2 separate regions of the Homo sapiens genome follow, and region 2 is linked to region 1. The links come from fine-mapping of genetic effects on gene expression. Tissue or cell type: whole blood. Region 1 holds a variant in brackets; the other region holds the start of a gene. All regions are shown on one strand. Distances are from middle to middle.

Region 1 (8,178 bases):
AACTGTGGCGAGCCCCATGGGCAGCTGTGCAGCACGGGGCACGGGCGGTATGCTGTCTTTCACACACCCCACCCAAGGTGCCCCTGGCTGTGGGCAGAGCCACAGGGTGTGGACACCTCAGGTGCGTCCAAGGGGACCAGGGAGAAGGCGGAGAAAGCTCTACTGAGAGGCAGAAACCAGGACAGAGAGGGTGTTTCCAGAGTAGGGGATGCCGCAGTGGGCCAGGAGAGCAGTGTCGTGTGACTGAGTGGGGGCGGCAGGCAGCTGCGGTCCCAGGCAGACAGTGGGAAGAGGAGCTTTGGTGACAGAGGACCCACATGAGGGTGGCTGGGGGACTCCAGGAAGATCTGGGAGGAGCTGGAGATTTCCGCCACAGAGCACCCTGGCATGCGAGTTGCCTGAGCTAGAAGAGCTGGCGGGAAGGCGGAGAGGGATTTGGGGGCTAGAGAAGTGCGAAGCGAGGAGGGATGTAGGTGCAAGCACTCTCCTCCAGGGCCCCAAGCACCAGCCACTACAGAGAAGGGTGAGGGAACAGGGCAGCTGCAAGTGTGAACCAAAAAGCAGCCTCTCCACTAAACAGAGGAAGTGCTGAGGTCAGGAAAGCTTGATGTGTCATGGGTTTCGTTCACCCCGTTCCATGGCCCGTCACACTCCGGCAAAAATCTCTTCCCAAAAAATCACCCATGGGCACACGTGCCAGGCTGCACCTGCTCCCATGCACATCCTCTGCTGCCCTGAGCAGGCACCAGGGGAACTTGAGCCCCAACCCCCAGGAAGCGGCAGGCACCTTACCTAGCGATGGCAGAGCACTCGATGTGCCAGCCCGGCCTCCCGGGTCCCCAGGGAGAGGCCCAGAACACCTCCTGGGGTTTGGCCGCCTTCCACAGGGCGAAGTCACTGGCATGACGCTTGTCAGAGTCCGCTGCAGATGACAAACGGTACATCAGTGGGAAGAAGCTCAGTCACCCCACCACGGATGCTCAGACATTCACCCCCACCACAGAAACCCAGACAGTCACCCCCACCATGGAAACACAGAAAATCACCCCAACATGGAAACCCAGACAGTCACCCCCACCACAGAGACCCAGTCACCCCCACCACGGAAACACAGAAAATCACCCCAACATGGAAACTCAGACAGTCACCCCCACCACGGGGACCCAGTCACCCCCACCACGGAAACACAGAAAATCACCCCACCATGGAAACCCAGACAGTCACCCTTACCACGGAAACCCAATCACCCCCACCATGGAAACACAATCACCCCACCACGGACACGCAGACAGTCACCCCACCACAGAAACTCAGTCACCCCCACCAGGGAGACCCAGACAATCACACCACAGAAACTCAGACAGCCACCCCGCCACGGAAACCCAGACAGTCACCCCCACCATGGAAACACAATCACCCCACCACGGACACGCAGACAGTCACCCCACCACAGAAACTCAGTCACCCCCACCAGGGAGACCCAGACAATCACACCACAGAAACTCAGACAGCCACCCCGCCACGGAAACCCAGACAGCCACCCCGCCACGGAAACCCAGACAGTCACCCCCACCATGGAAACACAATCACCCCACCACGGACACGCAGACAGTCACCCCTACCATGAAAGCCCAGACTGTCACCCCACCAGGGAAGCCCAGGCTGTCACCACCACCTCACCCCCACCACAGAAGCCCAGATAGTCACCCCCCACCACAGAAACTCAGCTGGTCACCCCCACCAGGGAAATCCAGCCGGCCACCCCGGTGGAAGCCCCTCCAGCCGCCAGTGGGCAGCACGCCCCAGGCTGTGTCTCTTCGAAGGAGCCTTGGCTTCTCGTTCACTCCTGTTTCACCCACGTGAGGGACAGGAGCACCGGCAACGCTTTCACCTCAGATGCACCAGCGCACAGGGAGAGCTGGGCGGCCGGGAACCCACAGAGGCTCATTTCTCAGGAATGTACTGTGGACCAGGTGGGGTTTTCCCATTTTTCCTTATTCTGTCTTACGAGAAATACTCTGCTTATCAGTAACTGAGTTTCAGGGTTGTTTTTTCCAAAAAGATACTAATCACACAGAGTGAAAGGCGCGTGATCGTGTCAGGTAACGCGGCTTATGGACCCGAGACTCTGAGCAAGGTGCCCATCACCGTGCGGTGAGGCTGCCAGTGGCGCATGCTCACCAAAACCTGCTGTCCCATCTGCCCAGGACAGGCACACCCCATGTGCACAACGTCCCAATATCACCCTTTCCACCCGGGAGCACTGACACAGGCGTCCATCACCTTTGATGAATTTAAAGAGTGCAGACACAGATACTTTTTCTGGGTCAGACTGGACAGGCTACGTTTTCATTACTAGTCACTTTACTAAGAATAACATCCTCTGGGCACCCAAGCAAACAGAACAATTCCTACATAGTGCATGGCAAACGAGAGCATCAATAACACCTTATGCCGAAGGAAAATACTTAAGGACAGAAAATGCGGCCAAGGACTGTATTTCCAGCCAAACTGACTTTGAAGTAGAAGGCAGCACACTGTCATCCACAGGCACAAATGCAGAGAATACTGTTCCCGAGAAAGGGCTCTTCCTTCAGAAACTGCTGGGGAATGAGCTTCAAAAACAACAGGGAAAAAGCGGACCTGGAGACGGTGGGAGGGGGGAAGAGTGGACGGGGCTACAGAAGGCAGCGCAGGCGGAGGCTGGGCACTCCAACATATGGACACGCGGGGCGGGGAGGAGGCACGTGCATGGGAACCTTCTAACCGTGGTCAAGCCTCGGGCAGGGCTGGTCCGTGATGGACTAAAGCAGGTGGATGCCCACTGGTCATCCGGTCACGCCCGTTGTCCTTACCACACATGTGAACAGACAGAGGGGTTAATGAAACCCCGTGGCCCTGAATTTGAGTATCAGTGTGACCTACGGAGCAGATGCGTTCATTACCTCAGTCTATGGGAGAGGCCAGGAAACAATGACAGACGGCAATGACAGATGGCAACAATGAGTATCCATGGTGCCCATGCTGTGTTCTCAAAACACCATTTCCCATTAAAAGTAAAATGGGAGCTGGGCGCGGTGGCTCACACCTAGAATCCCAGCACTTTGGGAGGCCGAGGCGGGCGGATCACCTGAGGTCAGGAGTTCGAGACCAGCCTGACCAATATGACGAAACCTCGTCTCTACTAAAAATACAAAAATCAGCCGGGTGTGGTGGCAGGTGCCTGTAATCCCAGCTACTGTGGAGGCTGAGGCAGGAGAATCGCTTGAGCTCGGGAGGCGGAGGTTACAGTGAGCCGAGATCGCGCCATTGCACTCCAGCCTGAACAACAAGAGTGACATTCTATCTCAAAAAAACAAAAGAAAAGAAAAGAAAGAAAGAAAGAAAGAGAGAGAAAGAAAGAAAGAAAGAAAGAAAGAGAGAGAGAGAGAGAGAGAGAGAGAGGGAGGGAGGGACACCGGGCGTGACCGGAGGGAGGGAGGGAGGGAGGGAGGGAGGGAGGGAAAGGGAAGAAAAGGGAAGAAAGAAAAGAGAAAAATGGGACTTCCAGGAGAAACAGCTTATTTTAAGATGAGCCAGGAATATCTTACCATATCAGATAGAC[A/G]GCCACAAAACTATTAACTACAACAGGGCTGAGTGTAAGGGACTCGGGAGTAGCTGCTACCAGCAAAAGAGGGGGCACGCCGAGGCTCAATAAGGTGATGGCAGCAATGGGTTAAAACGGCATGTGCACTGAAGCCCACGAGCTCTCAGCAACGGAAGAACATGAACTGGTCACTGCCAGAGGAAAATATGGAAGCCAACTCCTTGTTCTGAAAACTGGTAAGTTAAGGAAAAGGTCCTGCCTTTCTTATACAAACTGTACCACTGAGTAACCAGATGACAGTCTGCCTGTATAAAAGTATTCCAGCAAATGGGCCAGGCACGGTGGCTCACACCGATAACCCCAGTACTTTGGGAGGCCGAGGGGGGGGGGGGGGGGGGTGGATCACCTGAGGTCAGGAGTTCAAGACCAGCCTGGCCAACACGGCAAAACCCCATCTCTACTAAAACTACAAAAATTAGCTGGGTGTGGTGGCATGCCCCTGTAATCCCAGCTACTCTGGAGGCTGAGGCAGGGAGAACTGCTTGAACCTGGGAGGTGGAGGTTGCAGTGAACCGAGATCATGCCACTGCACTCCAGCCTGGGCAAAAGAGTGAGATTCCGTCTCAAAAAACAAACAAACAAACAAACAAAAAAGGTATTCCAGCAAATAAAGCAGAATGGGAGTTGCACCACCATGCCACCTCTTTTTGCAGTGAAGGATCTAAGCCTAGAGCGGCCAGGGCTGCTGACACACAGAGGCAGAGCCCTTACGTGTCTCCTGGTGAGGAATACACCATCTACAAAGTAGCCTTCTCCAGAAATTTAGAACTGGATTAAGCCTCTACATTCAACTACCAGTTTGCAAAAAAACACACAGGACAGAGGGAAATGTTACAGACACTCCAAAACTCAGAGCAAGCGAAATCCCACTGGGGGAACCGTGAGACACATGACGTTTCTCCCTCAAATGAGCAGCAAGGGGAAGAAGCCAGGGGAGGAACATGTGGACTAAAAACAAGACACAAATATAGAACAGCTAAGGCTAAGTGTCGTGTTAAGGGACACGTGTTTGGGCAATAAACCCATTCAGAAAAATGAGGAGGTGGCCGCTGTCAGAGTTAGGGCAGTAGTTGCCCCCAGGGCAGGGCAGAGAGGCTGGCAGGCAGGGCCCGGGAGGTTATCGGCCAGGGCGTGGGACCCGGAGGACTCAGGTGCCTTCGCTCCCTTGCCATTGTTGTCTCCTTCCACTAGGGGGTGACCGCAGGGTCTCCACTGAACACAAATTCACTGAGCTGGGCATTTTTGTTTGTTTGGTAGAGACAGCAAGGGGTCTCACTACATTGCCCAGGCTGGTCTTGAACTCCTGGCCTCAAGTGATCCTCCAACCTTGGCCTCCTAAAGTGCTGGAATTACAGGTGTGAGCCACCATGCTCAACCAAGTTGGACATTTTTTAATGGTGTTTTCTATTGTTGTGTTATTACAACAATTTAAATTGAAAATTAAAAAGACAACACCATTGCTTTGGAAATAACATACACTAAGGCATTAAAATTTTTTTTCACCATATGTAAAAATGGTGGTTTTATTATCTTTGTTTTGTGTAATTCTATTTCCTAATTTTGTACCATTATAAATTATATAAATATGTTGCTTTTGTATAAGAAAATATTTTTTATTTTAAAAAGCACTGCTGTGAAGATGTGGAACGACAGGGACTTATTCCTCACTGGTGGGGATGCAAAATGGTGCAGCCACTCTGGCAGAAGCTGGGCAGTTTCTGACACAAATAAGCCTCTTCCCAGAGGACCCAGCATTGTGCTCCTTGGTATCTGCCCAAATGAGCTGAAAACCTGCACGTGGATGTTTACAGCAGCTTTATTCATAATTGCCAAAACTCAGAAGCAGCGAAGATGCCCTTCAGTAGGTGAGTGCTTAAGCTGCTGTAAATTCAGACACTGGGACGTGACTCAGTGTTAAAGAGAAACGAGCTCTCAGCCATGAAAAGACACGGAGGAAAATTACTGTGTATTCCTAAGTGAGAGAAGCCATTCTGAGAAGGGTGCACAGTGTATGACTCCAACTATATGACATTCTAGAAAAGGCAAAACTAGAGACTGTAGAAAGACCAGTGATTTCCAGGGATGGGAAAGAGGGAAGGATGAGCAGACAGACCACACAGGATTTTTCAGGGCAGTGCAAGTATCCTGCGTGATGCTGGAATGGTGGAAACATGTCGCTATACATTCACCCAAACCCAGAGCACACAGTGCCGAGAGTGAACCCTGATGCCAACTCTGGTCTCTGGGCAAAGCTGATGCGTCAATGGTGGGGGATGCTGACAGTGTGGGGGGCGGTGTGGAGGGTAGCAGGTAGACAGGAATTCTCTGTACCTTACTCTCAAATTTGCTATGAAGCTAAAATGGCTCTAAAAAGCAAATCTATTAAATAAATAATTTTAAAAAACCTTCCTGATGCCAGAATGTACAACTCTCAGAAACTTCTCCTCCACATGTGTAAGCAAAGCCCACACGGCCTGCTGGTAGCCACGCCTCACACGTGGCTGATGTGGGCGTCTGTGTTCCGGCCTGTGCGGGGAGCGGGACAGGGCACCACGGCGGGGGAAGGAAAGAACCTGAGGGGTCAGTGCTATGGATGGTTAGGATTCATTGGCACAGTTTATGGCGCAGAAAGACAGTGCCTAAAACCAGAAATACCTTGAACAGTCTTTGGGGTCTGTCCCTGTTATTCTTGTTTGATTCCCTTAGACAGTATCCTTTTCAAATTATTTTAAATTTAGTTCCATATACTGCGCTTACTATTTCTTCTCCATAAAAATGTTTTGACCTAATAACTCCCTGGAACAGAATAGAGCAAGGAAGAGATTCAAACAGATTGGAAGTTTAACACATAGTAAGACACGTATGGGAATTAAATGTACGGTAACACAGAAGAACGCGAAAATATGATGTACGTGTATGAGGTTTTCATGTGCGCTGAAAACCCTGGGGAGGAAAAAGGAGACAGTGACCAGCACTGTCTCCAGGGAATGGAGCCAGGCACGCTGGGGGCGGGGGTGGACGATGCCCCACTTGCCGTTTGAACTATATGCCTCACAAGCTGGAGCCATCCACAGAAACCACACTAAATTTAAAACACAGCTGTGACCTGGGTAAGGCCAGTGTCTGAGCAAGTGGAGGGGTCTGCGCTCCAGATCTCATCTCCCCAGAGCTGAGACCCGAGGCAGAGGTCAGGGACCCACAGGGCTGAGCCCGGCCAACCCACCTGGCTCTCCGACTGGACCAGGGACCACGCCGACCAATTTGCCATACTTGTCTCCTCTAGACTTCAGATCGAAGTAGACATTGCCTGTTTATAAAGACAATTATGAATTCATCACTTCTCAGTCTGAATATCAGCATATTGACAACCTTAACATCTAACAAGTAATTAGAATTTAAATACAGAACATAGCATTTGGCCCCATATACATATATAGTATTTATATTTTTATAGACAGGGTCTTGCTGTTGCTCAGGCTGGAGTGCAGTGGTACAATCACAGCTCACGATAGCCTTGAACTCCTTGGCTCAGGCAGTCTTCCCACCTCAACCTTCCCAGTAGGTGGGGCTATAGGAGTGACACCATGCCTGGCTTAATATATTTGTTAACCAGAATTAAAAACAATACTATAAGATAAATGCATGATTTGGACATATCATGAGTACACAGACGTGAAAGTGAAAACACAAATGTAAGTTCTCTGTAAACTACTGAGACAATTATTTAATCAGAAAAAAGAAAAGTGTTATCACTGACCTTCATTTAGATCTTGTGCCTTGTGTTACACAACAGCTAACAAAGACACTCTTTCTTTACTTTATGTTACACACCAGCTAGCAAAGACACTCTTTCTTTGCCCAGTCATCTTCTAAAACTACCTTTTTACTCAGATTGAAAACATCATCTGGCTGGGTGCAGTGGCTCACGCCTCCAATCCCAGCACTTTGGGAGTCCGAGGCAGGAGGATTGTTTGAGCTGAAGAGTTCGAGACCAGCCTGGGCAACATAGTGAGACCCCATCTCTACCAAAAAAAACACACAAAAAAATCATCTGCATATTGAAGTGTCTGTGAGGCTGAGTGCCAAGGTCCGCTTTGCAGTCTGAGGTCAGAACCTTCTCCAGAGCCTCCTGCAAGCCTGGGCTGCCCTTGCCCCTTCCACCACAAAGCCTAAGAAAGCAGAGCTGGGGAGGAGGCACTCAGAGTGGGAGCTTTGTCAAGAAGAAAGCACTACCAACCTATGCTCCAAGGCTGCCCGGCTGCAGCCGCTGTGTGTTCCAGGCCATGTGTCTCCCTAGGAAGGAGGCAATGCTCATCCGGGCTGTGACCATGGCCATTCTCAGTACCACAGATCCGCAGCCACCATCCAGCACCCTCCAACCACACAGCAGCATGTAGCTGTCCTCAGGCCCCAGGCGTGGGTGCAACTTTTAGCCTTTACAAAGTTTGAGTCTTCACATTCTTTTTTACTAATGCAGTTACTGATTTGCATCAGTACTGTCCTTACTGCGGACACTGGTGTTGGTAAGATCA
Region 2 (8,178 bases), 25 kb after region 1:
CCTTCGCCCCCCCAGGGTCAAGCGATTCTCCTGCCTGAGCCTCCTGAGGAGCTGGGATTACAGGAGCCCGCCACCACACCTGACTAATTTTTGTATTTTTAGTACAGACAAGGTTTCACCATGTTTGTCAGGCTGGCCTCAAACTCCTGACCTCAAGTGATCCACCTGTCTTGGCCTCCCAAAGTGCTGGGATTACAGGCGTAAGCTACCACGCCCGGCCAAGAACCACTTTCAGGAAGGGCTCAGAACACTAATCAATGGCATTATCAATAGATGTAACTCTTCTCCACTTACCTCATTGGCTCTTTTGATGATTTTATCATCTACATCTGTAATACCCATCACCATGACTATGCTGCATCCAAAAACCTTGGTTAGGATCCTTCGAATGATATCAAATCTAACATATGAGCTGAAAGAAAAAAAGTGTCAGGATGTCTTTATTACACAAAGTCATCAGTTATCTTTGTAAAAAATCCATTACATTTTAACATGCTGCTCCATAACTTCTACTGTGTAGCACAATGGACAGGTCAGCGGAGCAGGTACAAGGAAACTCCCTCTCACTGATGGCACCAGGGCCTGCGCCACAAGGGTTCTCAGGAGAAACTGACAAAGGTATTGCATCAATTTCAGGACACAATATTAGCATTTTTAATTTTGGAGTTGTTGCTTAAGTGAGTTGAAGTCTATTTAATTGTATAAAAATTCACTCATAATACAATCTCTCAGTTAAGATCGTGTTTTCACCATTCTTGTTCATGTTCTAGAGTAATTCTAATTTTTCACTATGACAAAACAGAAGCAAATACCAAATCAAAACAAGTACGATCCCATTAAAGCCATATAAGATTACTCCTAAGAATGCACACACTAGTGTAGAATATTTAAAAATGCCAGCTTATTTATATACTACACTGGGGTAATTCAGACTTGTAAAACTAAAAGGGTTTAAAATCTACTTAGCATCTCAAGAATCTGTTTTCCCATAAAAGTTACCTTAAAACTCAAGGTTATCTAATGTCACACTCACCTCTGCTATCCATGTGGCCTAAATTTCAGTTCGTAAAATTGTTTTCTCTTAGGGTGGTGTGGGGGAATCCTAGCCATGTTATTGTATCACTTTAACCTCCCACACACCCCCTCCCTCTCCAAACACAGCTGAGACCAAATCTTGATTCCAGGGACAAAACTATCTCCAAAACTCAACAAGATAATTAACCTCTTACAGCTCAGTCGGCTTGCTTATAAATTTGGCAAAATCCCACCACCTAACAGGACTGCTGTCCAGCCTTACCGCCTGTGCAGCATGAATTCTAAAAACACAAGCTATTATTACCATTCTCATCACCATGCTCCTTCATTCACCTCAAGTTGGGAAAGAGTCTAAAAGATGTGAGATTTACAAGAAAAAAATTACAGGAACCTAAAGCAAATGAAAACAAGAGTCAAGTCCCTTGCTTGGCCCAGAGGAGCCCAGGCTGAGTCCCGGAACTGCCCTTGGAGACAGCAGAGGCTCCACAGCTTGGCAGAGCTGGCGGAATGCAGGGTCATGAGCAATTTGAGACCCTGAGACGCTGCAGGCAGGCTGTGACCACAGGGGCCACTCTATACACAAACACGCACACACACGCCTTGCAAGTGCCGGGCAGCCAAGTCTGAAGAACATGGCATCAGGAGACCTCAGCTTGCTTCTGTGACTCCACCATGAACCATGCTACCGTCAGCCCGGCTCTTTCTGCCCCATTTTCTCCATCCACTGGGTGAGTGTGCTCATCTGGGTGATCGCTGAAATGATTCATTTGCTAAGAGTCTTCCCTCAAAACGCTCCAGTGTGACTCCGTCTACCATGGCATGAAATCCAAACTCTCTGGGCCAGACCACGCAGCACCCTCCCCAGTCTGGCTGCAACTGACGCCCCATCCCTTCCCCTGCTCCTCCCCCCTAGCACCAAACTGATCTATTTGTTTTCCCCAAACAGGGTTTCCATCCCTCTGACCTCTTCTGGAAATGGTGGAGGCTATTTTTCAGGGTGTCTCTTTCCAGTGAACTGAGTGCTACCCATTGCTCAAATTCTACCTTTCTGCAGCAGGCACTGTGTGCATCCCTGTCCTGCTGGAGCTGAAATAATTACATCATGCTAACGACATCAGATGGTTGCATAAATAACCACTGAAGGAGTACAATGCTAGGAGAGCTGAGATGGGGAGAGGGAGGTGGGGCAGGCCAGCCCAGCAAAGGCCTGGAGGGGTTGGCCAGGCTGACAGGAAGGTGGTCAACAGGAGAGTCCCAAGCTCCCACCAGCCCCTGGGAAGGCCCTGTGTGGACACAGCTTATAACATGCATTCAGCTGCGCACTTAAGATGTGTATTCTTTTCTGTAGTCATAAAGGTAAATATTATACAAATTTAAACTGCAAGACTTGACTCTCCTAGTTGGAAATGAGAAGAGATTCTCTCCCCAACAACTTTTAGGATTTCTTCCTCAGTCCTCTTCAAATGCATGTCAATCTTTTAAATGGCTAAATAAACCTCTTGGCAGTTTTACAACTCAAGAAAATTTCAAAACCTGGGACCCACCTCTGAAATGTAATCAAGGAAAATAACGCCCCGTTTCCCAGTGTCCTGGGAGGAGATGGGCCTACCTTGTCATCTGACTCCACACTGTAACTCACCTGAAGCAATGGGTTATGCTATGGTCTGAATGTTTGTCTTCCCTCCAAATTCATGGTTGAAACCCTAACTCCCAAGGTGACGGTTTTAGGAGGTGGAGCCTCTGGGAGTGACAAAGTCATGGAGGCAGAGAGCTCATGACTGGGGTTAATGCCCTCATAGAAGAGACCTCAGAGAATTCCCTCTACCTTCTACCATGTGAGGACACAGCAGGCAGACCCTCAACAGACACCAAATTTGCTGGTGCCTTCATCTTGGACTTCCTAGCCCCAGAAAGAAAGAAATTTCTGTTGTTTATAAGTCATCCATTTTAGGATATTTTGTTACAGCAGACTCATAGACTGAGACAGGCTGTATCCCCAAAGCTCCATAGAAGGATGAGATTTCTTTCTGTCTTTGCAGTTATTTTAGCTCATCCCCTTCTGGTTTAAGGCTTATTCAGTAACAGAACTGTTTTCTTTCTCTTCTACCTTTGTGGAAAGGTTTTCCAGGGTGGGGGTTTTGTTTTTAATATTTCCCCAACATATTTTATAATTCAAGAAAGATGTCGAAATATGCTTTTGATAATTAAAAGTATGTTAGCCCAAAGTAAAGGGGAAAAATGTATATTTAAAGTATACAGAGTATGCCGGGCATGGTGGTTCATGCCTGTAATCCCAACACTTTGGGAGGCCAAGGCAGGTGGATCATTTGAGGTCAGGAGTTCGAGACCAGCCTGGCTGACATGGTGAAACTCCGTCTCTACTAAAAATACAAAAATTAGCCGGGCGTGGTGGTACATGCCTGTAATCCCAGCTACTCCGGAGGCTGAGGCAGGAGAATTGCTGCCAGGAGGCGGCAACTGGACCTGGGAGGCAGAGGTTGCAGTGAGCCGAGATTGCACCACTGCACTCCAGCCTGGGCGACAGAGCGACTCCGTCTCAAGAAAAAAAAAAAGTATACAGAGTAAATGTAACTTTTTACTTTTAGTCTAGGACTGAACAATACTAAGTTTTAAAAAATCTATAATATGTCATTTTTGTACATTATATTTTGGAAATGTACAAAATATTAGGAAAAGTGGTAATTTTGGCAAATGTAGGAGGCAGTACATCTTACAGTTAAAGAGGTCAAGAGAGCAACCACTTCGCAGTCAGAGAAACCAAGCCTCACCCCAGTTCCAATACCTCTTCAATGTGTCATCTTAGGAAAGTTACTCAATCACTATTGAGCCCCGTGACATCTCACATGTGAGGTACAGTGTTAAGCAGCATTTTATGGGCATTATTTACTAAAATTGTTATAAGATCCAAGTTATCATTCCCATCTCAAAGATGAAGAAACCAGGACTCAAAGCAATAAAGTGACCTGCTCAGTGCTGTGAAGCTAAGAAGTGGTGGGGCCCAGGAATGACTGATCAGCAGGACCCCGGGACCCCGCAAAGGCCTCTTGATGTCACTAAACCCAGCAAAAAACATCTAGTTCCAAAACGGGTCATTTTTCAGTGCTCCATTGTCTCCCTGAGTTTCCTCACCTGTAAAACGGGTGTAAGTGCTCAGAATCCCTATAAGAACCAAATGAGGTTGTAACATTTCCCACAATGCCTGGAATGTAGGAATTATTCTGCATCCCTAAGTTGCCACTTAAGAGATAAAAGAAATCAGCAAAAGGCTTTCAAAAATAAATGGTCCTTTGAAGTATGAAAATTCAAATCCAGGAAACTCACCAAGCATGGCCAAGGTGCGCATGATCATATACAGTTGGTCCACAGCTATACCTGGAAACAAAGTTAAAATCCATCGTGTGGAACATATTTGCAAGAAAGGACATTCGATTCTGAGTTATAATGATCATATAATTTTTAAAGTAATCACTTCTGGGGGATGAATAGCCGGGGTTTTCATACTTGCTCAATTCACACCCAAACCTGCAAAAGCACCGCGCACCCCCAGCTTCTAGAACGGCGCCCTCCATGCAGCTTCCTAAACGCCCTCCCCGAGCCCAGATCCCGTTCAGCCGTGGGAAGTCTCCGCCACGATCGGCCCCCGCCCGTGCCCCAGTCCCGCGCGGCCCACCAGGAGGCGGCTTCGGCGTGCGCCACGATTAGGGGTTCCTTCCTCCCGGTGAGGCTGTTGTACACCTGCACACCCGTCTCCCGGCCCGTGGGCTGCAGCCAGGCCCGCCCGCGCCCCCCGCTCGCCGCCCGGCCCGCAGGCCAGTGCCACCCAGCCCGCCCAAGGCCCAGCGCGGCCTGGAGCAGCGGGGGGCCCAGGCCTGGGCCGCGCGTAGTCCTCAACATGTCAGCGGCCAGCGCCTACGACTGGGCGGAGACGGGAGCCACGCCGGGTACGCTGCCGGTCGCTCAAGAGCAGCACGGCCCCGCCCCGCCCCGCCCACGCCCTTGGGGCCACGCCCACTCCCGGAAGCAGTCCTCAGGTAGCGCCTCCCTTTGGCCTGGCTCGAGTCGCCCGCGGCAAGGGTGGAGAACCAGGGCCCGAAGAGGTTGGGGCGGGGAAGGCCCGGGGTGGAGGGAGGAGGGCGGTGCCGCGCCGGGAGGCCGTGGGAAGAGGCGGTACCGTGCCGATCTCCTCTCCTTATTAGCCCAGGTCCTGCGAGGCGTCCGTGTGCGCGCGGTACCAGCCTGGAGCTGTGTCCGCCGCGCGGGAGGAGCGTTTACAGTGCAAGCTTCTGTTGCCGGGCCCTGGCCTGTTAGCGAAGCACGTGTGCATCCCAGCACAGCCCACGTCAGCACGCTAATACACAGTGTCCACCCCAGAACACACGTCAGCACCCCAATACAGTGTGCACCCCAATACAGTGTGCACCCCAAACACACATCTGCGCCCCAATACAGTGTGCACTGCAGCACACCGTTAGCATCCCAACACAGTGCACCCCGATACACAATGTGCAACCCAACACACAGTCTGCACCCCAAGAAGTGTGCACCCCAATACACAGTATGCACCCCAGCACACACATCAGCATCCCAATACAGTGTGCACCCCAATACAGTGTGCACCCCAGCACACACATCTGCACCCCAATAGTGTGCACTGCAGCACACCATCAGCATCCCAACACAGTGCACCCCGATACACAGTGTGCAACCCAGCATACAGTCTGCACCCCAATACACAGTATGCACCCTAGCACACACCACATCAGCATCCCAATACAGTGTGCACTCCAATACAGTGTGCACCCCAGCACACACCATGTCTGCACCCCAGTACAGTGTACACCCCAATACAGTGTGCACCCCTAATACACTGTGCACTCTAACACACACCATGTCTGCACCCCAGTACAGTGTGCACCCCAACACAGCACATGTGCATCCCAGCAAACACTGTCTGCATTCCAATGCAATGTGCACCTCAATAGAGTGTGCGCCCCCACACATCTACACCCCAATACAGTGTGCACCCCAATACACAGTGTGCAACCCAACACACACCATGTCTGCACTCCAATACACAGCATGCCTCCCCCACCATGATCCCGTATCTTGAGAACAAAAACATTCTGAAAGTTACTCACAATAGCTTGACAAACGTGCCTCTATTGGGCCAGGCGCAGTGGCTCACACCTGTAATCCCAGCACTTTGGGAGGCTGAGGCGGATGGATCACCTGAGGTCAGGAGTTCGAGACCAGCCTGACCAATATGGTGAAACCCCGTCTCTACTAAAAATACACAAATTAGCCGGGCGTGGTGGCGTGCATCTGTAGTCCCAGCTACTGGGGAGGCTGAGACAAGAGAATCGCTTGAACCCAGGAGGCAGAGCTCACAGTGAGCTGAGGTCACACCACTGCACTGCAGCCTGGGCAACAGAGGGAGACTCCGCCTGAAAAAAAAAAAAAGTGCCTCTATTGGTGTCTTGCAATACGATGTCTCAAAAAAAAGAAAAAGTCCCCTTTGCTTTTCCAGTTCTCAAAACAGGAGACGTTCCTCTGGTTTTTTGTTGTTGTTTTTAGTTTGCTTTGGTGTTTTATTAAAAAGCAAAGGTTTAAGTAGAGACAAACAAGTGTGTACCTAGAGTAGTTTCTCAATATCCTGGAGTCCAACTCTGCAATTCTGTTTCAAGCTAACTGTAGTCTAATGTAATCTATTGTCTAATTTAATAAGGTTAAAATGTTAGAATTAGGAGACCCTATAGCCTACATCAATGCTAACCACTCATGTTACCTAACTACTCTAAATTCTCCTGAATATTATCACTTCTTGCCTGCCTTATGTTATTTTGTAACTTTCCAGTGCTGTGTGTATATTTATCTCCCTGAGTATCTTAAATTGTACATTATTTTGAACTTCTCACTGTGCCCTGCACTAAATTCAGAAAAGGACTTGGGTTTTGTTTGTTTTGTTTTGCTGTGGCTGGAAAAAAAAAATTTAGAAGAAATAAAAGGGCTTGTTGAATGTTGATGAATTAATCCCTTACGAAAGGGATTAATTGTGCAGGTGGGAAGAAATCTGGGTAGTAAAATACCTGATAAAGCTGATTCAGATATTAGATGTGCCAGTAAATAAAGCAAATTAACAAAAAGCTCAGTTGCAATCTGTGAGAACACACGAATTCAAGGAAATAACTGGAGCAGAGATTCTGAAAGCAGCTTAGTAACACTGAAGATCAAATCTGCACATGAATCTGGACATGCGGTATATTTGAATTGTTCATAGAACATCACAACTTTTAAATTAACAATAGTATCTTCTGTCTTCAGAAAATTCATGTAATGTTTTTAGCCCCTCACTGGCAGTGATTCTATTATGTTTTCTTTTTTTTTTTTGAGGCAGTCTTGCTCTGTCACCCAGGCTGGAGTGCAGTGGCCTGATCTGGGTTCACTGCAGCCTCTGCCTCCTGGTTCAAGCAATCCTCCTGCTTCAGCCTCCACAGTAGCTGAGATTACAAGTGCACACCACCGTGCCCAGCTAATTTTTGCATTTTTATTTTTATTTTTATGTATTTATTTTTGAGACAGAGTCTCACTCTATCACCCAGGCTGGAGTGCAGTGGCACGATCTCGGCTCACTGCAACCTCCACCTCCCAGATTCAAGTGATTCTTCTGCCTCAGCCTCCCGAGTAGCTGGGATTACAGGTGCGTGCCACCACGCTCAGCTAATTTTTGTATTTTTAGTAGAGATGGGGTTTCATCATGTTGGCCAGGCTGGTCTGGGACTCTGGAACTCCTGACCTCAAGTGATCCAGCCACCTCAGCCTCCCAAAGCGGTGGGAATACCGGCCTAAGCCACCACACCTGGCCAATTCTCTTTTCTCTTTTTTCTTTTTTTTTTTTTTGAGATGGAGTTTCACTCTTGTTGCCCAGGCTGGAGTGCAATGGCGTGATCTCCTGGGTTCAAGCGATTCTCCTGCCTCTTTCTCACGTCTCCCGGGTTCAAGCAATTCTCCTGCTTGTCTCCTGAGTAGCTGGGATTACAGGCATGTGCCACCATGCCCAGCTAATTTTGTATTTTTAGTACAGATGGGGTTTCTCCATGTTAGTCAGGCTGGTCTTGAACTCCC

What was found. PIP is the estimated chance that this variant, and not a neighbour inherited with it, causes the effect.
Region 2: it holds the start of CARS2, and the variant in region 1 is fine-mapped to the expression of CARS2 in whole blood (TOPMed, PIP above 0.99).

Annotation. Positions count from the first base shown.
Region 1 is chr13:110,676,182-110,684,359 of GRCh38, forward strand. It overlaps CARS2 (cysteinyl-tRNA synthetase 2, mitochondrial), which reads right to left. Exons shown (of 15, transcript NM_024537.4): 6 at 6,870-6,953; 7 at 793-922. Among named protein-coding and RNA genes, the nearest start is that of CARS2, 26 kb to the right of the region's middle. RefSeq lists an enhancer at 1-490. The variant A/G (reference allele first, on the strand shown) is at 3,605.
Region 2 is chr13:110,701,144-110,709,321 of GRCh38, forward strand. CARS2 (cysteinyl-tRNA synthetase 2, mitochondrial) reads right to left here and starts at 4,973. Exons shown (of 15, transcript NM_024537.4): 1 at 4,727-4,973; 2 at 4,378-4,428; 3 at 295-412. The coding sequence starts at 4,950. RefSeq lists a silencer at 4,781-5,340 and enhancers at 5,391-5,770, 5,781-5,900.